5 separate regions of the Homo sapiens genome follow, and regions 2, 3, 4 and 5 are each linked to region 1. The links come from fine-mapping of genetic effects on gene expression. A gene starts in region 1. Each other region holds a variant in brackets. All regions are shown on one strand. Distances are from middle to middle. Region 1 holds the start of TAPT1 (transmembrane anterior posterior transformation 1). Region 2 overlaps TAPT1 (transmembrane anterior posterior transformation 1). Region 3 overlaps TAPT1 (transmembrane anterior posterior transformation 1). Region 4 overlaps LOC124900674 (a long non-coding RNA gene). Region 5 holds the start of LOC105374505 (a long non-coding RNA gene).

Region 1 (5,106 bases):
ATAATAAAGCAGCTTCAGTGAAAAGATTCAACCGACGAGAAGCTACAAGTTCCTCAACTTGCCCACATTCGCATTCCCACATTTCCAATTTGTTCCCCCGCTTCTTTAGGCAGTACCTAGCCTCGGCACGGCTGCTTCCTCTTCTTTTTTTTTTTTTTTTTGGCACGGCTGCTTCCTCTTCTTCTTTTCTTTTTTTTTTTTTTTTTTTTTTTTTTTTTTTTTTTTTTTTTTTTGGGACGGAGTCTCACTCTGTCGCCCGGGCTGGAGTCCAGCGACGCGATCTCGGTTCGGTTCACTGCAACCTCCGCCTCCCGGATTCAAGCCATTCTCCTGCCTCAGCCTCCCGAGTAGCTGGGAATACAGGCGCCCGCCATTACGCCCGGCTAATATTTGTATCTTTAGTAGACACGGGGTTTCACTATGTTGGCCAGGCTGGTCTGGAACTCCTGACCTCGTGATTCGCCCCCTTCGGCCTCCCAAACTGCTGGGATTACAGGCGTGAGCCACCGTGCCGGGCCCTCTCTCTTCTATTTAAAAGGATAGGCACAGCCTTTGGAACTGAATGTCTTTCCTCAGGCCTCATAATAGAAAATGAGGAAAGTCCATTCTGACAACTGGCTGCCTTAGGCAACAGAATTTGGGATTCCTACCCTTCCAGCTCCTGTTGAGTCAAAGGCAAAGGCAATAACCCAATAAATGTGGTGAGACAGTAAATGGAAACTGACATAAAAATAGCAATAAAAGCCTACTTCCTTCTTGACAATCAATACATAATGGAATGGGTATGATTTTACACCATAAAACATCAGAGAATAATAGAATATGGGCTGAAGAAAGCTCAGAAGCCACAACATTTTCCCCACCTTTTGATTTTCAAAACGATTCTTAAGATTTGTCGGGAGTATTTGTTTTCAATTGTTTCAGTGAGGCTCAGTTTTGACCACATGCAACCAAAATAGAGAATTTCATGGAGGATGGTCACAGGATTGGCTTAGAAAAATGTAATCCTGTGAGCTGTCCCCTTTCATAAATAATAAGGTTCCGACGGCTGCACCGAATGTTCCTCCTTTCAACGAGGTTGGGCCGAGGTTGGGCTCCCAGCTGCTGGGACATTTTTAGTCCATCTTGGACTCTCACCTCTGCCTCCTGCTCAGCTGTCAGAATGCCAGGCGGCTCTGCAGCCCAAAGCCCACTCCGTTTTAAACTTGCTCGTTTGCAATCACGTAACCCGCTACTGACGACAGAACCCTCAAGGCCCATTTATATGCGGTTCTCAAGTTTAGGTCTAGGGAAGTTTCCAGGAAGCTTAGTGTTCGGGGAGGAATTCGTTTTGCTTTTGCTAATCAAAGAGACACAAAAGCACAGCTGAGTCCCGAAGCTGGCACACGGGAAATCGAGGTACCACTGTCCCCTCACCGGAGCGCGCAACAATCACTTGGGGAGCGGGGAAAAGGTTTCCACCTTCCCCGAGCCTGGGGCACCTTCGCTCCCACCGCCCCAGCTGGTGGTGGTCTCGACACCACGCTCGTTGCGGGGTCACACGCCAGAGCTGGAAAGGGGAGGTCCAGCCCCAAGTAAAGCGACAAAGTAAGGACACAGTGGTGGCCAAGGGCTGTCTCCTAACCCCAGTCCCGAAAGACAGTGTGGAAAGTCCGCCGGCGCGCCAGCCCTTGAAACTCTGCCGGTCCGGCCGCGGCCCCTCCCCTGCGCGTCCCCACCTGTTGTGAAGCTGCCCAAGCTCCTTCTTGCCCAAATGCTTTGGAAACTGCCAAAGGACACTCAGAGGCCAGGGAATGTAACAGGCAAGCATAAATATGCAGAAGAGATGGAACCAAAATAGCGGGCAGGCAGGGCCGGCGCTCGTGGGGGTCGGTGATCTGGAGCCGGGCCCCCGCCGCCGCGGCCGCGCCAGCAGTGCCAAGACCTGGCGGGCGGCGCCGGCGCACTCCGGGCACCGAGTCTGCAAAAGAGGCCCTGAGCGGACCGCCGGACACCTCGCAGACTGCGGGCAGCGGTGGTGGCGGCCGCCTCTCCGGGGCTCCACGGCCGACCCGCCGCCCGCCGCCGCCATCCCCGGCCCGCTCCTGCCGGGTCCCCGACTCGAGCCCCGGAGGCGCCCGCTCTGCGGGACCGCGCAGCCCGGCTGCATGGAGCCCGGCGCGGTGCCCCGGCCGGCCGAGCCAGCCACGGCGCGAGAAACCGTCGCCCGCCACGGCGAGGGCAGGAAGAAGATGGCGGCTACCGTGGCGGCGGCGGCGGCGGCAGCGGCCTCACACGCGTCGCTGACGCCAATGGCTCGCGCCGGTCGGCGGGCCGCGGATGGCGGCGGCGGCGGCGGCGGCTCGGGCTCCGGCGAGGGGCGGGGCGAGGCGGGGAGGGGGCCGGCCGGAGGCAGAGGCTGGAGGGAGGCGGCGGGGACAGTTTGTTGTGCTCGGAACATGGCGGGCGTCGGCGACGCGGCCGCTCCGGGAGAAGGCGGCGGTGGCGGCGTGGACGGCCCGCAGCGGGACGGCCGCGGCGAGGCGGAGCAGCCGGGCGGCAGCGGCGGACAGGGGCCCCCGCCGGCGCCTCAGCTCACAGAGACGCTGGGCTTCTACGAGAGCGACCGGCGGCGGGAGAGGCGCCGGGGCCGCACAGGTGAGGCGGGCGGCGCTAGGCCGTGGCGGGCTCCGAGGGGCGGACTGGGGACCGAGGGCGGCGGGGGCGCCTTGGAACCCCGGCCCCCGAGCCGCGCGGCTGCCGTTGCCTCCCGGGGCTCCCCAGGCTGTGGGCGCGCGGAGCCGCCGAGGCTGCCGAGGCTCCGCGGCCGTTGACAGTTCCTCGGGCGGGTTGCGCGCGCAGCCCCGAGGCCCCCGCGGCCGCGCCAGGCCAGGTGTGCCCTAGAAGGGGTCTGCGGCCGGGAAAGTTCTGTCCGGGTCCTTGCATCGCCCTCGGAAGGTCTTAGGTTAGCGGGCATCTCCCACGTCTCGGAGCCCAAACGTGAGAAGCACACGGCTGATTTCTTAATTATATTCATGCCAAGGTGACTTTTTTTGTTCTGTATTTTAAGCAAACTTGAGCCATAGAAACCTGTTAACTTGCCCTGCAAGTAGATTTTTCACAGACAGCTGACGGTGTGGTAGTGACCATGAAGTTCAGTAGTTTTGCCCAGTACAGAAATATTTAACACTCCATAAAATGTTGCATCTGAACTTTTCCTGAACTGAAACTTATGCCAAAAAAATTACTAGATGAGAAAATGTGTACTTATGAATCCTACATTCAATGACCAGTTTTAAACGTATTGTTACAATGTTACAGTTTCTATAAGCTGTAGGTTTTTATTCTCATTTTAAAAGAATTTTTAAAACTTGCATTTGTATTCATATTGCAGTTACAGATTAGTTTTAAATGAAAAAAGGTTTTGAGATGGATGTCTTCTTGAATATAGAGTGAACCCAACGTTTTAATTCTCAAGCTGTAAACAGCAACTGAACCATAACTCCATTAAATTTCTTCCAACTAAAAAATTACTTCTGTTGTCCAAAAGGGGCTGTGTTAGCCGTTATTTCCTGAAGTTCATGCAAATAACTAAGTTGTGAGGCTGATTACATCATTGATTGTACTTGAGTACTGAAATTTTAAAACTACTTAAGGGGCATAAAGTTGATCAGATGCGATTCTAATTGATTTGCTGATTCCCAGAACTGGACGTAGGTTCTATTTGAAGCAGTCTATATTTTTGGAAAATTACAGACGGTCTTGTTTGGTCTTTTTCAATTAACCACTTAAAAATTCTCAACCATACTTTATTTGGTTTAGTTCTCAGTTAAACATTTGCTTTCAAGAGTATTTACTTTCTTCATTGGCAGGATCTCAGTAAGACAAAATAGCAAATCTCTCAACTGTCTGTTTACTTACTTAGACTTGAATATTAAAAGCACTCTGTTGTAAATAGAGATAGATGTAGCCAGGCTTCACTATACTTTCTTTAAAACATTTCTCAGTTGCAGGAAAGCCACCATTTTAAAAGCCTTTTTTTGTTGTTTGCGTGGAGAGGAAATGAAGTTGTTTGAAGCCTATTGATGAGCACAGATCTTGAGCTTGCAGTATCACTTAACACTTCTTCCCTGGCTTTTTCTGGGACTGGATACCTGGACTTCCATGGACTTCATTATACCACGTATCCATTCTTCACCAACATGGTTCACCATGTTTAAGGCTGGATTTTTTTTAACCCATAGTTGCAGGAAGTCATTATCAGGGAGATGCCTCCAGGTTTAGCTGTTGGGGTAGTCCTTGTTCTTTCCCCAGTTCCATTGATTTTGTGTGAGGAGATGTCAGTGGCCACTCCTGCTTTACCAAGTCACACTAGCCTTGGCGATCAGGATTTAGGTGAGAATTCCAAATTCCAGGAGTATTTCAGCTGGAGCCACTGGCCAGTGTTCTCTCTGAGCCTCCACATAAGCCCCTCCTTCTTTTCCCCTGGTGTCCCTGCTCTGCTAGTCACATAGCTCCTGCCACTGCTAGCACCCAGTCTGTAGCTCCGATAACCATATTTGTTAGAGGTTTCCCCACTAGAAACAATTATTTTAGTCCTTCTTCAATGCCCAGGCTGCTAAGTCTAGCGCTGCCCTCTTCCCCTGCTCTGTAATCCTTCCTTCCCCTCCTTTTAAGAATTTTTAAAAACGATTCCCTAGGAGCTGGCCTGGGTCAGAGGGCCTTTGAGTGGCAGCACCTGGAGTCATTTGGATAGCATTTCTCCCTGAATCAAACTAGTCCTCCACGGCTAGATGCTCGGACTTAAGGTATTACTTGTTGATTTTTTTATATTCTTGTGTGCCTCTGAGAGTCTAGCACCACTGCCCTTGAGATCTAGATCCCCCTGCAAGTTAAGGCAACCTTTGGCTTTTCTTTTTGAAAGTCATAATCTTAGTGTCTTGGTGGCTGAACCATCAGTCAGTTCCAAAGTTCCCTTTATCATTTCTCACAAGGAATTTAGGGCTCCTACAGGTAAGACATTTGTTGATCAGTCCCAACAGCCTAGAATTCCCTAAATGAATGTACATATTAGGTACTTATCCAAACTCTTTCCATCTGAATAAAATAAAACGTGGTGTCTGAGGT
Region 2 (5,106 bases), 27 kb after region 1:
TAAGGTGAAGATGTTAAGCTTACATGAAGCTTAATGCTTTATTGGTCTTGAGGTTAAAAGCGAGTTTGGCTTTTACGGTTTTCTTTCTTTGTACAATTATGCCGGTGTGTCTCCACTCTGTATATAGTCACTCTTCACAGCATTTTTATTGAGTTCTTAGCATAGATGTCGAGGTTACATTTCTGACATGCATCACTTTTCTACATACATTTCATGCTGGAAAAGTTCTAAAATGCTAAAATGGACAATAATTTGTGAGACTTCATTGAACTATGGTGACTGTTCCGTGGTGTATAAAATATATAATTAATAAAATAATTTAACCATAGCAGTTGAGTTAAAAATTAGTGGTCGATATACACATTTATATGGTTTGTTTTTTTAAAAGACTGAAGCCATGAAAGGTTCTTTTTTAAAGTAGTAAATGAGCGTATACTTGATATTTAGTAACACATACAGTCTTTTTAAAAATAAGACAATCAGTTTTGATAGAAATTCCTCCCAGTATAAATTGGAATAATTATTATGATGATCACATTATAAAAGGATTTAAAATGCTTGTTTTGCAAGATTACATGGAGTAAAACAATTATAAAAATTCAGCTCCTGTCATTGTTATATGCTATATTCTGTAACTTACTTGCCTTCCAGGATAACAGTGAATTAGTGTTACATATTTTATTAATCACAAGTTAATCAAATGGGAAGGTAGTTTTAGAAATTTAGTTATTTGCTTTAAGGCATTTCTAGTACATCCTTTTTTCTTTTGGGAGAAGTTTTAAGAAGGCCTTATTATTAACAAGCCTTTTTAAAGGCATTTGTAGCGTGGTGCATTAATACTAACAAAACCTAACCACAATAAACTATTTTCTTTTATCACTCCTGGGAGCTTCATGATATCATGGCATTTTAGTTCATTTTCAGAAGACCCAAATACAATCTAATAGAACATTACCAAATATACATCTTTATTTGGAACGGGATAAAGCGAATAGAAACATGGAAATTTAGATAAAGTCAGGTGAAACACATGACATAAAATTACTAATATTGCTGGATGTGGTGGCTCATGCCTGTAATCTCAGCACTTTGGGAGGCCAAGGTAGGAGGATCGCTAGAGGCCAGGAGTTCAAGACCAGCCTGGGCAACATAGTAAGAACTTGTCTCTACAAAAAATTTAAAAAATTAGCCAGACATGGTGGCACATGTCTGTGGTCCCAGCTACACCAGAGGCTGAGAGGTTGGAAAATCACTTGACCCTGAGAAGTCAAGGCTGCAGTGAGCCATGATTATGCCACTGCACTCCAGCCTGGGTGATGAGTGAGACCCTGTCTCAAGTAAAGAAAGAAAATAACTAATACTATGTAGGGCTTTTCACATCTACATTATGAGCTACATTACTTTTTAGTTATTCTTTGATCAACAGTGTGCGTCAAGTTCATGTTCTAGCCATCTTTATGTGGACGGCTTTTAAAGACATGTCATGTTCTTAGTGGCTGTTGGCACAATGTGGTAAAACATTAAAATGATAGATAAGCTAATGACTGTATTCCTTCTGGAGTGGTCCCTTCCTTGGGCATTGGTTAGCACACGTATGAGGTATACTAAGTAACAGTGGTGATTTGCCAGTGATCCCAAGGGTCTCTCTTCGGGGACAGTTGTTTGAAGTTCCACCTTGTTATATTGTACAGGCATCTAAAACTGTGTTGCACTCAAGTTCATTTCTGTGTAGCCCCTGTTACGTGGGGGTACAGGGCACATAAAATAGCATTAGAAGAGTCTTTTCTAGACCAGCACGGTGGTACACACCTGTCATCTTAGAACTTTGGGAGGCCAAGGTGGGAGGGTAGCTTGAGGCCAGGAGTTAAGACTAGCCTGGGCAACATAGCGAGACCCTGTCTCTACAAAAAATAAAAAATTAGCCAGTTGTGGTGGCACATACATGTAGTCCCAGCTACTTGGGAGGCTGAGGTAGGAGGATTCCTTGAGCCCAGGAATTCGAGGCTGCAGTAAGCTGTGATTGCACCACTGCATTCCATCCTGGTTGACAGAGCAAGACTGTCTCTTTAAAAAAAAAAAATTCTTAAAGTGTTTGTTCTAAAAACTAAAAGATGTTACAGGGAACTGGGAAATCTTAAATCCTCTGCCAGTATTTACTTTTACTAGTGGTTAATGATCCCTACCTCTAACCTTTTTTAGATATTTTAAGATTTTTTGTAGTGCATAAGATGATTGCTTTCTTACATTAGTTTGAAATACTTTGAATCTAAATTAATTTGAGTATCATTTGAAAATAAGATGTTTTCTTTTTTCAAAGTTTTATAGCTAAAATGACACTAGAGGGCAGCCTGTTACACATGACATTTAAGACTCCATTGAGGATTTCCCCTGCAAACACTTCTTACTATTTCTGCTTTGGATTAACTGAAAAATTAATTTCATGCTATCACTAATAAATACTTATATGTATAAAAACATGAAATGCAGTTAAAATTATATAACTGTTTCAGCAATTTTAAATGATAGGAGTTTAAATGAAACTTAAATTTTCATTTAAATTTTAAATGAAACGGAGTTCAGGCAATTATAAATGCTTTGAGGATAGGCCAGGTTACACAGAATATGAAAATCCTGCCTAATGTCTTAGTGCCTTAAGTATGGTTTATCAAAATTGAGTAATTTGTGCTTACAGTAATATAGGCTGCAATTTTTGTTTCTTTGAGCAATTTAGAAAATATCTCTTTGAGCATTATTTTTAAAGTCACGAAACTTGAAATATTTGATAAGGTAAAAGTTACATAAACAAAGCTATTGTTAATATTAAGTCTAAGACCTTTCAAATATTTTGGAATATAAAAATACTTTTTAGGTTTACCAAATGATTATTTAGAAATAGCCAGATTTTGCCTTCTGATAGCTTTTATTCCTGTGTTTTCTACTTCCATTAAAGATTATTCGATTTGTCTTGCCTGTAGTGATGTCATGTTCCATCCTTTTCAGCAAGCAAAAAGTGCTCTTTCCTTCAGTCTGACTTTATTTTTTTCAAAGAAATAAGAAGAAGTGAAATAGACTGGCAAAGAAGTTGATTGCAATTTTTTAAATAAT[T/GT]TTTTTTTTTCACTCTCCTGTATTTCAATCTTCTTTCTGTAAAAACTTACTGTCTTCCTAGTCTCTTTGTTCTTTGAAATTGTTTTCACAAAAGGGAGGAAACAGTCCATTTGTCAAATTAATCACAATGCTGACGTGAAAACAGTAACTCTTTGCAGACTCTAGAACTGTTTGGTTCAGTATCACATCAATAATGTAAATTATTGCCTTCTTTTTATATTTGAGATCAGTGTTCTCACCTCATCTGTTTGCAGATTTACATCTTGTACAGCATTTGTGAGAAGCTTTTTAAAGCACATAGACCCCCGTGTTCTCTGCTTCATAACTTAATATTTGAACCTATTTCTAGTTCTTCTGCAAACTTGCCATGGTTTTTGACTTAAGTAAAATAAAGACCCTGTCCCTTCACTAAGGCTGAGGACAAGGGTGGTTCTACAGTGCCTTAAGTAAACCCAGCCTTCATCATGATGGCTCATCCAGCAGGGTGTTTTGCTGGCTTTGACCCTGTTGTTTAAGTACTGTTCATTATGAGATGTTGGCAGGGTAATTATCTGCAGTCATATTTGTGTGTGGTGTTTGCCAAGGATGCACTCCCTCCCTAAAAGTTAATGTCTGTCCTCAGTGATCTCAAGAATACTTCACTGAAATAGTTTCTGATGAATTAACAACCTTGAAAAATCTTTGCCCACAAATATTTTGTTGTAGACTTAAAAAAAAAATTAGAAAATGCATCTAAATTCTTTAAAAGCAGATTCACTTATGTATATCTTCCCTCTTTCCCAGATAAGAGTAGTGTCATTTTAGAAATCATTTGAGAAACTTCTTGAACGAGGATAATCTTTTTAATGATTCATGACATATAAAACAGAACTAAGTTTTGATTTATTATATGAAGTGTCTATTCCTTGGAAGAATGATAGAATTTTTTGTTTTTCAGAAAAGCAGACTGCTCTATATTATGTTAGAGGTACGAAACATCCTTTTTCCAAATTTGCTTGTAGAATTGAATGAAAAATAGCTAATTATGTACATTTGATTTACCTGGCATTTTTGTCAGCCCTCTATTCTCCTGAAATTTGTGACTTCGTTTTGTGCTTTAGAATTCTCAGTCACGTAAGTTAAAAGTTAAAGAAGATTGTAGAGAAAAATGATATAGCCTGGTACCAAGAATTGAGTTATTGTTGAAAAAACTTTACTGAAACATTTTAGAAAGTGATACATGAGTTGAACAGGCTTAAGTAATAAATGCCGGAGTGTTTTTTGGTTTTTGTTTTTTACTATTAGAGCAACTAAAATATGTGTGAGCAAATGTTCTGTCCCCTGGCCCGGCTTTAGGCATAACTCTCACATGAGGCTTCACAGGCTTTTATTTTTCTTGGTTGAAGAGGCAATAGTATCATTTTCTTTTGAGAGTTTATCCCATGGGAGAGCTCTTGTCTCCCAGAATTATGAATTTCAGATGCTTGAGAGTTTCCTAACCTTTTGAGTTTCCTTCGTATGCCTTACCTCTTTCGAAATAGTTCTGCCCAAGATTAACCTCACCTATATGTTATAATAGATTTTTCTCTTTTTAGACAAAATTAAGCCTTGATTTTGGCCTAAGTGATTGATGCCACCACTGTAGCACAAGTAGGGAGAGCTCTTGGTAACTTTCTCTGGGGAAACAAATATGCCTTTTACTTCCTTTTACCAGGGCTGATCTATGTGGCTTATTTGTTGAGAGCAATATATTTGTTATTAGAAAGTCTTCGTAACACCAGGTTTTATTGTCCCGTTTCCTCACCATGGAGCTCTAAGTAGCGTAGCAACATTACAATCTTCTCTCTTTCTTTCTCTCTCGTAAATCAGACCGAAGGGAGGAGCACTTTCACTTCCTTTATAGAATGGAATGTGGTGGCACAGGGACTCCTTGTGGTGAGTAAACCCTGATTTTTCCTTCTATACTCTTGGCCAAATTGACATTCATTAAATGCAAAAGTAAACAGGATAGGCAGACATAGC
Region 3 (5,106 bases), 40 kb after region 1:
CTGAATCCTGAATATCATGCCCTCCTTTTCTCTCTTTTATGTGTCAATTTTTACCTGTTATACTGTATTCAAGGAGATTGATACCTGAAAATGTGGTTAGGAAGTAAATCTGCATATTTTATTCCATATAATAAACCTCAAAAAAATAGTTACCATTATTTACAAATATTAGATATGAGTAGGTCAAATGATATATTTGTCCTAAATTTGAATCCTGAGTTTGAATTTAAAGTGCTAAAACCAGAGGAACCATGATTTTGATGTGCCCACCCCCTTTTTTTCTTTTTTTGGTTGAGTCAGAGTCGCGCTGTCACCCAGGCTGGAGTGTAGTGGCGCAATCTCGGCTCACTGCAAGCTCCACCTCTCGGGTTCACGTCATTCTCCTGCCTCAGCCTCCCGAGTAGCTGGGACTACAGGCGCCTGCCACCACGCCCGGCTAATTTTTTGTATTTTTAGTAGAGACGGCGTTTCACTGTGTTAGCCAGGATGGTCTCAATCTCCTGACCTCGTGATCCGCCCACCTCGGCCTCCCAAAGTGCTGGGATTACAGGCATGAGCCACCGTGCCCGGCCAGATGTGCCCACCCCTTTTATTTTTGCCACTATTTAAGACTTTCTTTGTTACAAACATAGCTAATTAGTCTAACTGAAATTCTATACATATTTTAGCCGTTACTATTTGTTAAAGAATAAAGAAATGTGAGTGAATAAGTAAACAAAGATCCTCACTCCTCTTTAGCTTGCCTTCTACTAGGATTTAAAACACAGATCTCCAGGATTTGAGCTATATCTCAATTTTAGTTATATATTTAAATGGAATATTAAGAAACATCTTACAAATAATTTTTTTTTTTAGGTAGCTGATCGTCTGTTTTCATCTTTTGGACAAGACATATTAGATGCTCTCTATTGGACAGCAACAGAGCCTAAAGAAAGAAAAAGAGCCCACATTGGGGTGATTCCTCACTTTTTCATGGCTGTTCTCTATGTCTGTATCCTTATAGACCTACTGGAAATTTCCGACAGTTAATGCATAGTCTACCTTATTTTATTTGGTTAGCCATTTTATAGATTTAAAGATATATAGATAATGTATGTATCCTGAAGATTAATGTGAAATATTTGTGTTCTGTTGAGAAATTGATTGTCATAATAACTAACTAATTTAAGAGCCTCATGTAGGCATTACTCTTTGAGCTGCTGGAAAACAGTTCTGTTTGCAGTGTAACTGATTATAAGGAAGACTTTTATAATAAAAAGGCAGTGTATCTTTATACATACCTGATATAGATCTATATAATTTTTCGTACTTATGTTAGAATTTTTCTTGAAGTTATCTTTAAATCCAGGAATTCTTTTTTATGGGCTTAAAATGCATGGAATTTATCTAAAAGTGTAATGTGAAATTGGTTGGGAGGAGTTTTGGTGGTTTTATGTGTTTGTGTATTCTTCCCTGGCTTTAAGCTTTTCTATTGGAGAGTAAGTGCTTTACTGTATAAGCAGTGTACATGTTTGTGTGTACCCCTACATATTTATACACACATTCCTGCTCTTAAGTTCCATGTGAAGTCAGGACTCATTCACAAGAATGAGTCACTTTTTTTTTTTTCTATCTCTGTAACAGTGACACTTGAAAGAAATTGGGTTAATGCTTGGAAAGTTAAAGAACCAAGTTGGAAGATACCTGTGAGGGTAAAATCTTGTTCCAGTTTTAATGGAGTAAAGCAGTTACCACTCTTAGATATAAATTAACTATTCTGTATGTAATACAAATATAATTCTGCAGTTTATGGATATCTTCAAAATGACATATGAAGAAGAATCTTAATTATCAGATATTTCCTACTGCCTTACATTCCACATTTCCTGAAGACTCAGGGAAGAAAATCACTTCCAGAATTATATTTT[G/A]TGCTTTCTTTTTTAGAATGCAAATTATTTTAATTCAGAATGTGTATTTCTTAGTCTCTTCTTTCAGTATTTACCATAATTTATTCCATTTACTTAACAAACTTTTTTGAGGGCCTATTTCCTGAGCACTGTGCCAAGTGCCAGAGATACAGAAAGAACAAAACAACCCTGTTGCAAAGGATTCATGGTCTAAATAAATGAATGCATAGAGGTACATTTCCACTTTTGTTCGTTTCATGTGGATTGCACATATCCTGTCAAACTTATATCAACTATAGCTAATAGGGAAATTATGAAGATAATACAATACTTATTAAGACAATTTAGAAAAGAAAGTCATCTTTATTATTCACTTTCAAAATTTTATAGTATTATCAGTAATAATATGAAAGCAAATTTAAGTTTTTTCCTTGACCTTCTATTAGTTTTGCATGCAATTCTTATAATGGTTCAAGCAACAACTCTCAATGTAGCTTTTAACTCACACAACAAGTCTTTGCTTACTATCATGATGTCTAATAATGTAAGTATGAGATTTATCTTACATTTTTGAAGTTATACAGGCATTTCAGCTGCAATACTCTGGGTGGGATAAAATTCTTTGTTCTATATGTTGTTCTCCCGGAAGTTTTATAAGTAGCAAGTCCAGTTTTTAAACTGTTATAATCATAAAGATGGTATTTCTGTTTACTATTTCAGTTTGTTGAAATTAAAGGAAGTGTTTTCAAGAAGTTTGAAAAGAACAATCTCTTTCAAATGTCAAATAGCGGTATGTACAATTAGATTCTACTTGAAGTTCTGTGCAGTATTATTTTGCAGTTCATTCTGAAATCCTAATGGCACATTTTCTCTGGGCCACTCTTCAGCTTAAACTGTACCTTCTCTTATGCTATCAACATCTTTACTAGGTTTTCTTATTTTTGGTTCCTGTAATCACAAGATGTTTGAGATAAAAAAATTAGAAACATTTGTGTAGCACCATACGCTACTTTGAGAAGCTTCTTAATAGTCTAGAAATTTCTCTGAAGTGGGTGGTATTTTTCCATTTTATAGATGTGAAAACTGAAACACAGAAAATAATTTGACTTCTCCACAGTCACATAGCTTCTAGGAGAACTATGTCTATAAATCTCAGATTGTCTCTAAGTCCTTAGCTTTTTTAGTTATTATTTAGTTATTATTTACTGCCTTCGTTCTAATCCTAAAAAGTGTGAAGGCACAAAATTTTTGTGCCTGGAGTCATTGTCTTACATAGTTTTTGAAAGCCAGAGCCACATTGCGTGGTGGATCATGGAGCCCCCAAGAACAGTCCCAGGGGCTCTGCCAGGGAGTATGCTCAGAGTCAAAAGTGTTTTCACAAGAATATGAAGACATTATTCATCTCTTCTGCCATGGTGACATTTGCACAAGTCATGAAGAAATGGTGGTGTTTTAGCATGAATCCAGACAGATGTACAATAGAGAGGACCCCTAAAGGAACCTGGCTTGATGATGTCCTTGAGGAAGGAGGGGTGTGTTATGGGGAGGCCTGCAGTCCTGTCGTAGATAAGAGCACACATGGCTCATCCAAAGCAGCGCTTGTCAGACTTTTTGGTCCTGAGAACCCTTTTACACACTTTAAAAAGTATGATGATCAGCCAGGCGCAGTGGCTAACGCCTGTAATCCCAGCACGTTGGGAGGCCGAGGCTGGTGGATCACCTGAGGTCAGGAGTTCAAGACCAGCCCGGCCAACATGGTAAAACCCCGTCTCTACTAAAAATACCAAAATTAGCTGGGTGTGGTGGCGGGTACCTGTAATCCTAGCTACTGGGGAGACTGAGGCAGGAGAATTGCTTGAACCTGGGAGGCGGAGGTTGCAGTGAGCCAAGATTGTACTAGAGCACTCCAGCCTGGGTGACTAGAGTGAAACGCTGTCTCAAAAAAAAAAAAAAATTACGATGATTCCAAAGGACTTTTATTTATATGGATTATGTCTCTCCCTATTCACCATATTCGAAATGAAAACTGAGAAATTTTAATAAAAATATTACATGCTTACAAAAATAACATTTCAATAAAAAAGATATTTTATAAAACAAAATTTAGTGAGAAGAGTTTCTCAACAAGTAATGCTGGAACAGTTGGATAAAGGTTAAAAAAAAAAGAACTTTGGCCCCTTCCCTGCCCAAGAAAATTAATTCATAGTGGTTCATAACCCTAAACATAAATGCTAAAGTTATAAAACTTCTAGAACAAAATATAGGAGAAAACATTCACAACCTTGGTCTAGGCAAACATTTTTGGAGACCACACAAAAAGTACTAAATGTAAAACAAAAGAGAGAAACTGGACTTCTTCAAAATTAAAATATGTGATCATAAAACTTAAAAAGTGAAAAGGCCAGCCACAGTACTAAGAGAAAAGATTTGAGATGCATATATCTGACGATAGATTTTGTTTGTTTGTTTTCTGAATATATAACAAACTATACCAATCAATAATGAAAGGACAATCTAGTTTTAAAATGGGGAAAAGGCTTGAACAGACATTTCACAAAAGAAAATCTATAAATGTCCAATAAGGTCATGAAAAGCTGCTCGGCATTATTAGGGAAAATGTCACTGGAGAAAGACAAAGCCATAATGAGATAGCACTGCACACCCTCCAGAGTGACTGCTCTTGTAGCCTGACAGTGCCACAAGTTAGGATATGGATTAACTGGCACTCAGGCATCGATGGCGTGAGTGTAAAGTATTACAACTGCTGTTTTTGGCCATTTCTTTTACAGTTAAATGTTCACCTGCCCTGTAATTCAGGAAATATATTTCCTCAGTAGGACTTGTTGCAAGAATTATTATGGCAGCTTTGTTCATACTAGCCAAAAACTGGAAACAACCCAAATAGCTATCAGTAGGAAAATAAACAAACTGTATATCCATACCATAGAATACTACTTAGCAATTAAAGATAAAAGAATGAACTCCTAATATTGTCAGCTATGTAGGTCTCAGAAGCATTATGTTGAGCAGAAAAGCCAGACACAAAAGTGTACATGATGTATTATTTCATTTATATGAAGTTTATGATCAGACAAAATTCGTTTATGATGATAGGAATAAGAGGTTGTTTGTTGGGCATTTGGATTGACTAAGGGGACTCAAAGGAGCTTTCTGGATGATGGAACTTCTTTCTGTATTAAGGGCTTGGTGTCTCAAGTTA
Region 4 (5,106 bases), 90 kb before region 1:
AAAGATTCCATTTTAGGAGCCAATTTTTAAGAGGTGAATGAACCCCTTACATAGTTGATTTGAAAAATGAGAAGTAGACACCGAAAACTTTGTGATATCATCTAAGAATGGTAGATGGTTTAGATAAATCCAACACTTGCAGCAACCCCTGGATAAGGATCATACTTAATCATTTTAAAACCTGTTCATGAAGAGCATTCCTGGATGCTTTTAAGTTGAAGGAGGTTATGACAAGAAATATTCCACAGCATGTTGCATGGTAAATAAGTATGCAAGAAATGTTTGCTGATTGACTGATCTGCTTTGCTATGTATATGTAGTTTCTATGAACACAAAACTGTCTCAAAGAAAGCGATAAAAACCGCTGCTCCCAGTCATCAAGTTATTAGCATGAGATGTGTACATGGGTAATCTCAGCTTCTTTTTCCCCCTCAAACACTGATGTGCTGGACACTGAATCACTTAAAATGATAATTTGGCATAAGGAACCATATCAAACTCTTCCAATGACTTCTCCATCAGAAACAGTCACTGGGTCCCCCTGCCGAGTACTCACTGCAGCTAGAAGGCAGCGGGATATGCTGCCCACACTTCACACCCTGGTTTCTGAATTCCAGGGCTTCCCACATGGCCTACAGCAGGAGGTCTCATGCCAGATTGGCAAGAAACAAAAGCCATCATCCTCTCCCTACCTCTCACATCTCTAAAGTTGGTACAATTAAGAAATTAAACTCTATCATAGCAAAGTATGAAATTAATTTTGAAAAAAGTACAAGTTATTCATTTATCTTAACATGTATGATGAACCAGGCACTCTTCAAGCTTATGAGCTCCCAGTGAGCAAGAAACACAAGATCCCAGCCCTCTTGTGGGACATGAAAAATAAATACATGACAACACAGAAACAGGGCATTTGCAGGTCAGGATGACTTAGACAGAGTGGTTCAGGAAGGCCTGTTAAGGAGGTAACTTTTGATACATGAACTTTAAAGAATAAAAATGAAGCATATATTGGAAAAACTAGGAAAATAATAATCTAGGAGCAAAGACCAATAAGGGCAAATCCTATAATAAAATGGATTCAAAGAATCAAAGAATGGAAGAGGGAGTTTCAAATTTATATTAAAAAAATATTATCATCATCGAGCCATCTTAACTCTTCTGTTATACAGATATAAAAACAGCGATTCAGAAAAGGTAGTAATTTTATCAAGGCTACCTTGCTTGGGCAACATGATTAAAGGTGACCTTCCTGAACACCAGTTAGCCAGCTATTCTGACACCATCTTTTATATTCCCCTACAAGACAAATGTTAAACTTCCATAGGTATTAGAAATCTATGACATGACTTTAGCAAGGAAGTAGAAAACAATGATTTAGCTCTGGGGTTGGAGGGAGTAGAGAAAAGCACTCAAACGCATATTAAACCCTTCCCTTCAGAGAAGTACTCAGTCAGTCAAGATTCTCAAGCACCATAAAAACAATTCTAAATGATACTTCATTTTTAAAAAGTGTCTTTCAAAAATCCCAAAAGACTGATGGAAAAAAGATTAACAGCTATCATTTGATGGCTGTGAAATGGTTGCTTCAATCTTGGGAAAAACAGGTTGGATTTCGAGGGAGATGTTATGAATAACATGGTGCTTGGAAAAAAATATATACATATAAATGTATAAAGTATATTCTGTATTCATAGCATATTCATATATAAATTTATAAAAGTATATATGAATATAATATTTATATATTTTGATATATTCATATATTAACACATGTATAAATATATATATGTATGAATGAATATATGTTTATATATAAATGAAAACTATGTGAAAGACTGCTATTATATACATCAAATTCTGCATGGGCCTGCTGGTGCAGTCCAGTAACAGCAAACACCTGCTCTTAACTGGTAGCTGACCGTGGGCCAACTGAGAAGACAGTGGCAGGAACTTGCTGTTGCCTGTGGGTTGGTTTTCCATTCACACATACTCAAGACTGAACTTGTTCATAGGTCAGTGCCCTTCACCTGTGCATTCTCTTCTTTGCTATACTCTCTGATCTTCCTCTTTCTCCTCTGCCCCCCGCAGATTTATTCCCCAGGGCCCCAACTTCATACTGCCTGAGTCCAGTATGGTCAAGGCAAAGATCCACCCCTCCAGAGAAAGCAATAATGACTCCTACTAGAATCTTCCAGGGCCTTTGGAGAAGAGCAACTTCAAGACAAATTTTAAGAGTGCTAATACTGTGTCCATTTTAGTAAATACCTTGGATGCATTGTTACTCTAAAAACCATTCTCTGTTCCGTGGAGGATGAGACCTGGAAAGAAGAAAGGGATGATGATGAGGAACTGAGAACCCTAGCCTGCCTCCTATGCTTGTCTGACCCTCTGAGGCGGCCATGGGAAGCTTTTCCCTAAAGCCTTTGGCACTTCAGTTCTGTCAATTGCTGCCCCTTTGGTGTCTTTTCAGAATTTGTGTCACCACACTCTGCTGGTGTGTCTGCCAGAAGCCTGACCATGCTTAGGATTCGGCCTAAGGATTCAGTGAATCTAACAGCTCACACCTGGATGGAGAAGGGAGGAGAAGATTGGGACATTAGTACCAGAATCCAAGAGGGTTAGTCTTACGCAAGTCTCAGAAATTGGCACTCCCTCGATATGAAGCCAACCTCTTTCTCCCAGGCCCAATCAACAGAAAAAGGATGCAAGTGGCAGAAAAGTAAATTATTGAGACTCTGTCTTTTAAACCACATCATCAATTTGAAAATAAAGCTTTTTATTTTTAGGATGCCAGCAGAATTGTTATGGCTCTGCCCCTGCGGTCTCAATAGTGGCCTTGGGCTCTAAAACCTTGACCTTGGAAAGAAAACATTTACATTGTAAATGCACTGGCAGTATGAGCACTGTTCTATGGTGAAGTACCCAACAGAGGCTAAAAA[T/C]TCAGAAGCGGCTTTTCCCTTTCTTCTGAAAGGCCTAATCCGCGGGGCTTTCACAGTGACAAAATCAAACTCTTAGCAGTAATTGTGCATTGGTTCTAGCCGTGAACTTGCATAAAATCTGAAATTTCACGCCACCTATCCTGTTGCAGGGAGTTTACCACTGATCATCAGGAAATGGAGCTTCTGGAGAGGCTTGAAGGAAATTAGACTGTGCAGGCCCTTGGGCAAGCATACTTGTGAACAAAATGCCTTTACAGTCATCCCTTCTTCCAAAACACAGGCAGCTTCACGCTTTGTTGAGCTGGTACTTGAGTCCTGCAGAGGCACACAGGTTCTGATGCGATGGCTTCGAGAAAACAGACCGTGTCTACTTTAGATATCTAAAGTCAGCCTACTACACCCAGACATTCTCTTATCCATCTCCAGTTAGGCTGGAAAAAGGAAGACTCAGAGTGGCTTGATGGCTAATTCCATGTGCTCTGATGGAGTGTCAGGAAGAAGGACAAGGTCCATTATGACCAGTGGGCAAAATGATAGCCAGTGGGTGGAAGCAATGGGAGGAAGCTTCTAGCCCATCCAGCAGGGGTTCTTTCTCCTCATTAGGATGGTCTGAAGCTGGAATGAGCCAGCTCTCAAGCTCACAATTGGCTTATCACTGAAGATGTCCAGAGGGGGGCCTCCACTGACAACCCTTGACACTAATTCTTTGCATGGTCTTGGCCCAGCATCACAGAGTGACGCAGACTGGCCTCACAGGAGCAGCTCTGGAAAATGGAGAGACATCAAGGGGTCAAGATGAGATCATTCACCTTTCTGGGGTCTCTGACTCCTTAGGAAGTTCTCCTTAAGGGTCAGGACTGCTCCAAGTGTTTTATAGTTATTAACTCATTAAAGCTGCACACCAATCCTAAGATCAAAGGTGGGTGCTCTCATCTTTTCCTACTTTACAGATGAGGAAACCAGGGCTCAGGGGTTACCTAACCCCTCCCAGATCGCAGAGCAAGCAAGTGGCAGAGGAGAAGTCCCTGGCTAAACACCACAGTCCACTCTCATAGCCTCTATACTGCTCTGTCTCAGAATGCTCTCTGCAGGCCCCCTGATGTCCTGTAGTGTGACCATCACTATCTGCTTTGTCTTCCTTCCTTACCAGTAGCTGTTCCGCTGATGGACTGGGTCTCTTCTGACATCGATTTTGCAAAGGCAATATCCCCTACACAGACTGTGAAAAACCCCAAGGTTATCCTCTTTGGTTAGTGATAGACCTTGAATTCATTTTATTTTTCAGACACAGTTCTAGATACACAGCCAGCATCTGCCACCAATGGCACTCAAAGCTGATGGAATGAATGATTTCACATCAGCAGTCACACAAATTATCACCACTGAATTGCATGGATGTTATCAAATCAGAAAGAAATGAGGCCAAAGCAAATATCACACATATGTAGTGCTTTTGCTTCTTAAATTTAAGTTTTATAAGTAATTTTGGCTCTGTGTTAAAAACAAAAAAATAATAATATAATAGCTAACACTTATATCATGTTATGTGCCAGACCCTATCCTAAGCTCTTTTCTCTTATTAACTAATTTAGTCCTCACAAATACGCTGAGATGTTAGGCAGCATTACAATCCCCATTTTAAAGAGGAGGGAACCAAAATACAAAGAACTGAAGTTTAGGTTTCAGTACCTGAGCTAGTAACCAGACTAGTGTGCCAAGTGCCAGAGGAAGGTGGCCTAAACCAAAGTAATTTGGAAGAGGTTCAGAGAAAAGGATTAATTCAAGAGACATCACACTAAATAAGTAAATTGCAATAAAGCTGGAAATGGGAGGCAAAGAAAGAGACACCATCGAAGACAGCTGCCAAGCTTCCAACGAACATGTCTTCTTGTCAAAACTGCAAAGATTCCACCTCTATGTCTTTGTTCAGGCTCTTCCCTTTGTTTGCAACGCCTTTCCATGCCCTTCCATGATTGTTCTGCAAAGCCTCTTATTAACTGCTCCTCACCTCCTGCCTCTGCATCCCTATATCTCATTGTTAGTTGGCATACAGTTCCTGGCCCTCACCCATCTTCCTCCATGTTTTAAGCTCCTCAAAGGTAAAGACATAGCACAGTGATGAGTGGGGAGCCCCAAACTCTAGCTATTTAACATCAGTTTTGTG
Region 5 (5,106 bases), 130 kb before region 1:
CTGACTCGGAGGAGAGGAAGAGTACGCCGAGGGATGGCGAGAGCTAGAAACAGCGCGAGAAGGCAGGCGAGGATGGCTACGGGAAGCTGGGCAGACAAGATGGCGACGAGGAGTTCGAGGCGGAAGAGGAAGAAAGTGAAAATAAAAGTATGGATACGGATCCCGAAACGATACGAGATAAAGAAGAAACTGGAGATCACTCCATGGACGATAGTTCGGAGGATGGGAAAATGGAAACCAAATCAGACCACGAGGAAGACAATATGGAACGTGGCATGGACTAAACTACTGCATTTGAAGCTTCCTTTTTTTTTTTCCAGTAGTATTGTTACCTGCTTGAAAACATTGCTGTGTTAAGCGGTTCATGCACATGCCTGACGCTTCCAGAAAGCTGTGGAGAGGGACAGAAGGGGTGGTTCAGCCAAGACAGATGTAGACAGAGTTGGAGCTGGGTATTGTTAAAAACTGCATTATGCAAAAATTTTGTACAGTGTTAAGGCCTAAAAACTGTGTGGTTCAGAGACTAATTCCTGTGTTTAATAGCATTTATACTTTAAGCACAACTAGAAAATTGTAAAAATTGCACTCTACTTACGTATCACTACAAACTTTACAAAACTATGTCTAATTTACATCAATACATTTTTAAAAGGTGCCAGCACTACCATACATCATTATTATTATTGTTATTCCTTTTTAATTTAATCTGCTCGCACTACAATGCATCAGTATTACGATTCCTCTGTACTTTCCTTTTGCTATTCATCAATTTCCCTTTTTTTTTCCAGCTTAAGTAACCACACAATTTTAGGCCTCAATTTTTTTTTTTCTATGAAGAAACTTGAAGTGTTGCACGTGTGAATTTAAGATACCGAAGTCTTAAAGTGACCTGGATGTAAAAGAAAAAGTAAGATGAGAAATAAAGCCTTTGTAAGGTGGTTTTAAAAGCCTTTTATGCAAACCTTTTACTCTGTGTTTCTGCAAGTGCCATCTTTGTACAGTATTAAGAAGATAACATGGGTTACCTTTGCACCAGCTTCAGTGTTAAGCTCACCCTGTTCTCTGAAGCAACCATGTCAGTATTAGAAGAATAGGCAGCAGTTCCTTAGTTTACATATGTTCGTGCAATTATTTTATGTACTTTTTTGTTCATTAATTTTGTCAGTATTACACCAAACTGTTTTTGCAACAACAATTTTTTTTTTGCATTCATTTAATTTTAGGTCAAATAACATTTTATTTATGTTTTTTTATTTTTTATATTTCCTAATTTTATATTTACTAATTTTATTTATTTCATACTATAGTGTACGGTATTATAGTTCTTCAATATATAGATATATTTTAGTAAAAAAGGAACATGACATTGGTCATTTGGGCAAATTTTATGTAAAGAGAAGAGCATTTATTGTGTTTTGGAACATTAATTGTGAGATGGAATTTTTCGATTTTATTATTTTATTTTTGTTTTTTCCAATTACTGGAAATTCCAAATTTGGGAACTTTTGATACGATCTTGTGAAAACACTGTATTTTTTATTGAAAATTCCACTTTCTTCATCTTGTTTTTTAGCTAAAAAGAGGGACTGTTAAATACAATGTATGATACCATGCAAAAATCTTTCTGAATTGTCTTTGTAAAAGTATTATTGAATTTTTAATTTGTAATTTCTTTTGAAAATGACCATGCTCGAATAAAAATGTAGCCAAATTAAAAACAAAAAAAAAGATGGCTCAGAGGACATTTTATTAACAAAAATGATAGAGGGCTCTGGTGAGAGAGTCACAGGCAGTGCAAAAGTGAGCAGTAATTATCCTCTGTAGGTCAGGAGTGATGATAGGAGAAGTTGTTGTTACACAAGTGGGCTCCCTAACAGCAATGAGGATAAGACTCTGGAAAAGAAGAGGCCAGGAGGCAGCCCTTAACAGTCAGAAAAAGAATAAAGTAAAGCCAGTTACTGTAATGGACAGCAAGACTGGAATGGCAGCCAGAGGCATCTGTCCCATAGGGATCATGGCA[A/G]TGGCTCACAGAACATAGTATTCTTAGGTGCAAAATAGATGGGCAACCAGAAAGTGTACTGCTTAAAATACATGATCCAAAAAGTTCAGAGAATGACAGTCGGGTGTGGTGGCTCATGCCTGTAATCCTAACACTTTGGGAGGCTGAGACGGGCAGATCACATGAGTCCAGGAGTTCCAGACCAGCCTGGGCAACATGGTGAAAACCCTGTCTCTGTAAAAAATACAAAAATTAGTCAGGTGCAGTGGTATGTGCCTGTAGTCCCAGCTACCTAGGAGGCTGAAGCAGGAGGATCTTGAGCCCAGGAGTTTGAGGCTGAAGTGAGAGCCATGATCACCCTATTGTACTCCAGCCTGGGCGACAGAACAAGACACTGTCTCAAAAAACAAAAGGGTTCACAGAGAATGGATGATCAAGAGACTTAAGGTCTGCTGCCTCTGTAAAAAGACTTTTTTTTTGAGACAAGATTTTGCTCTGTTTCCCACCTGGAGTGCAGTGGCCTAATCACAGCTCACTGCAGCCTTGAACTCCTAGGCTCAAGGGATCCTCTTGTCTGAGCCTCCCAAGTAGCTGGGACTGCAGGCTAGCAACACAACACCTAATTTCTTTTTTTAATTTTTAGTAGAGACAAGGTCTTGCTATGTTGCCCAGGCTGGTCTCAAATGTTAGAAAGTCTTGATTGCCCAGTTTACAGCCCTGAGGAGTTCTCAGATCCAGAGCACGTCGACTAAAGAAAGATCATATTCCCACAGAAAACAAAAAAATCCTACAACACAACAGCCAGTGAGCACAGTAGTGCTTTCCCAGTTCTTCCCAACAAGCAAATAACAGCAACAACGAAAAGAAAAGAATTATGGCTATGTACTCAAATAATTGTACACTGCAGAAAGGGGAATACCCAAATCCTTCAAAGGCTATAGGACATAGAATTGAGTAGGCACTAGTACCCAGGAACCCAAAGTACCAATATTATCCCTGATAGTGCCTATGGGGGGTCAAATAATAAATGAAGTCCTGGCCAAGGTCCATCTCACAATGGATTCATTCTCATCCATTGCTATTTCTCTGATTCCTAAAGGCATAAACAACAATTTCATACTCAGGAGTTGACAGAACTCCCACACTGGCATGCAGAGTAAGAGCTATGGCAGTAGGAAAGGCCAAGGGGAAGTCCCTGAAACTGCTCCCTGCTCCAAGATAGTAAATCAAAACCAAGATCCCATCCTGGAGTATATGACAGATATTAATGCCACCTTCAAATACTCACGTAATGCAGGAGTAATAGACTCTGTCATATCCCATTTATTCAGTAGGGCAAAAACTGGATGCATTATGATAGATGTTAATGGACTATCACAAACTTAGCCAAGTGTAGTCTCATTTGTAGCTGCTGTGCCAGATATGGTGTCTTTACTAAAGGAGATTAACACAGCTTGAGATATATCATATGTGGCTATCGAACTAATGAATGTGTTCTTTTCCATATCTACATGAGAGGAAGATCAGAAGCAGTTTACATTCTCGAGGCACAAATAATGGTACAAATTCAGAGTTGCTGCAGAACTTTGTTAATTTTTCCATTCTCTGTCATGCTAAAATCCAAAAGGACTGTGAATGTCTGGACATCCTAAAAATGGTAGTGAGCATATAACTGTGGAATCCATCAGTCCTGCCATACACAAACCATCCAGAAGCTATTGGCCTGATAGAGTGATGAAACAACCTTTGGAATGTACAGCTGAGGGGTCAGATTGAAGATGACATCCTTCTGAAGATGGGGTGCTATAATTTATGATGGGGTATATACTGTATACCAACGGTCATTATATGGTGATGTGTACCCAATAGATAGAACATATGGTGAGAGAAATAGGGATGGGAGTAGCATGAGCTGCTTAGGAAATTTGTGTGTCCTTTGTCTGTACCTTTATACACTATAGGTACAGAAGTCCTAGTCTCCAGAGAAGGAGGTGTTTCCACCAAGGGATGCAGTTGAGAGTGCTACGTGGTCATTGGGCATCTTAATGCAAATAGACGAGCAGTCACAGAAAGCAGACATTATATAACAGTGGGGATAATAGACCACTGTCCTCATGAGGATATAGAACTGCTCCTTAATCATGGGGCCAAAAAATTGCTGGCATGAAGGTGATCTTTCAGAATATCTTGATAGTTCTACGTCCTATAAATGGGCAAATACAACAACCATCGTCCTGTGGAACTATATCCTATATCCTCTGGAGGAAAGACCTCAGCTAATGACTGACTGACATGGGTGTACAAAAGACTAAGCACCCCTTGACTCAAGGTAAGACTAACTCTGCTATGTTATTTGTGCTTCAGAGCTTCCCCATGGGAACAAACTAAGGCTAGCCTCCAGTTGAGGCCCCATTCTTACTTAGCTTTTATTCCCTCCCTATTCTGCTTCCTTCATTCCCCTCTTCTACGACCATTTCCTGGAAAAAATTACTTGAACAAAGATACCTGTTTCAGCAGCTCCTAAGGAATTTTACCTAAATGACAGAGAGTTTTAATGGTTTTGTTTACTGATATTTCAAAGGTTCTAGAAAGCATGGGACACAATGGGCCCCAGATAATATTGTTGAATAAAAGTTTAAACCATATCATACTGAATTGTCATGCTGGGTTTAGTTGCCATCATTTATTCATTTAGTAATTTCTTTTACTCACATAATTGGCTTTTATCTAGTGCTTCCTATGTTTTAGGCTTCATGCCAAGTGTTGGAGATACAAAAAACAACGTAAGTCTGTGCTCCAGTTCTGACGGCACTGTCAGCCTTGTCATGTAGACATATCGATAAACTGACTCACTTGAGTACGAGATAACGAATGCTAATGTTATGGATTTAACTGTATGCCCTCAAAATTCATAGGTTCTATATTTTGAGATAGGACCTTTAGGGAGGTAATTAATGTTAAATTAGGTTATTAGAGAAAGGCCTTAAATCAATAGAGTTGGTATACTTTTCAGAAGAGGAGGAGGCACCAGAGCTCGCTTGTGCTCTCTCTCTCTCGTTCTCTTTCTGCATGTGCACAGGGGTAAGACCATATGAGAACACAGTGAG

What was found. PIP is the estimated chance that this variant, and not a neighbour inherited with it, causes the effect.
Region 2: its variant is fine-mapped to the expression of TAPT1 in whole blood (INTERVAL, PIP above 0.99).
Region 3: its variant is fine-mapped to the expression of TAPT1 in whole blood (INTERVAL, PIP above 0.99).
Region 4: its variant is fine-mapped to the expression of TAPT1 in whole blood (TOPMed, PIP 0.99).
Region 5: its variant is fine-mapped to the expression of TAPT1 in whole blood (TOPMed, PIP 0.98).

The regions. Positions count from the first base shown.
Region 1 is chr4:16,223,790-16,228,895 of GRCh38, reverse strand. TAPT1 (transmembrane anterior posterior transformation 1) reads left to right here and starts at 2,425. Exons shown (of 14, transcript NM_153365.3): 1 at 2,425-2,637. The coding sequence starts at 2,439. TAPT1-AS1 (TAPT1 antisense RNA 1) reads right to left here and starts at 2,233. Exons shown (of 3, transcript NR_027697.1): 1 at 1,719-2,233. RefSeq lists an enhancer at 1,313-1,372 and silencers at 1,883-2,082, 2,143-2,212, 2,223-2,322, 2,333-2,382, 2,493-2,872.
Region 2 is chr4:16,196,571-16,201,676 of GRCh38, reverse strand. All of the region lies in intron 3 of TAPT1 (transmembrane anterior posterior transformation 1), which reads left to right. Among named protein-coding and RNA genes, the nearest start is that of TAPT1, 27 kb to the left of the region's middle. The variant T/GT (reference allele first, on the strand shown) is at 3,106.
Region 3 is chr4:16,184,105-16,189,210 of GRCh38, reverse strand. TAPT1 (transmembrane anterior posterior transformation 1) reads left to right here. Exons shown (of 14, transcript NM_153365.3): 5 at 856-991; 6 at 2,333-2,430; 7 at 2,607-2,676. Among named protein-coding and RNA genes, the nearest start is that of TAPT1, 40 kb to the left of the region's middle. The variant G/A (reference allele first, on the strand shown) is at 1,908.
Region 4 is chr4:16,313,645-16,318,750 of GRCh38, reverse strand. All of the region lies in intron 2 of LOC124900674 (a long non-coding RNA gene), which reads right to left. Among named protein-coding and RNA genes, the nearest start is that of TAPT1-AS1, 90 kb to the right of the region's middle. The variant T/C (reference allele first, on the strand shown) is at 2,943.
Region 5 is chr4:16,355,863-16,360,968 of GRCh38, reverse strand. LOC124900674 (a long non-coding RNA gene) reads right to left here. Exons shown (of 5, transcript XR_007058064.1): 5 at 2,681-5,106. LOC105374505 (a long non-coding RNA gene) reads right to left here and starts at 104. Exons shown (of 4, transcript XR_007058069.1): 1 at 1-104. It also overlaps the pseudogene ZEB2P1. RefSeq lists an enhancer at 1-558. The variant A/G (reference allele first, on the strand shown) is at 2,021.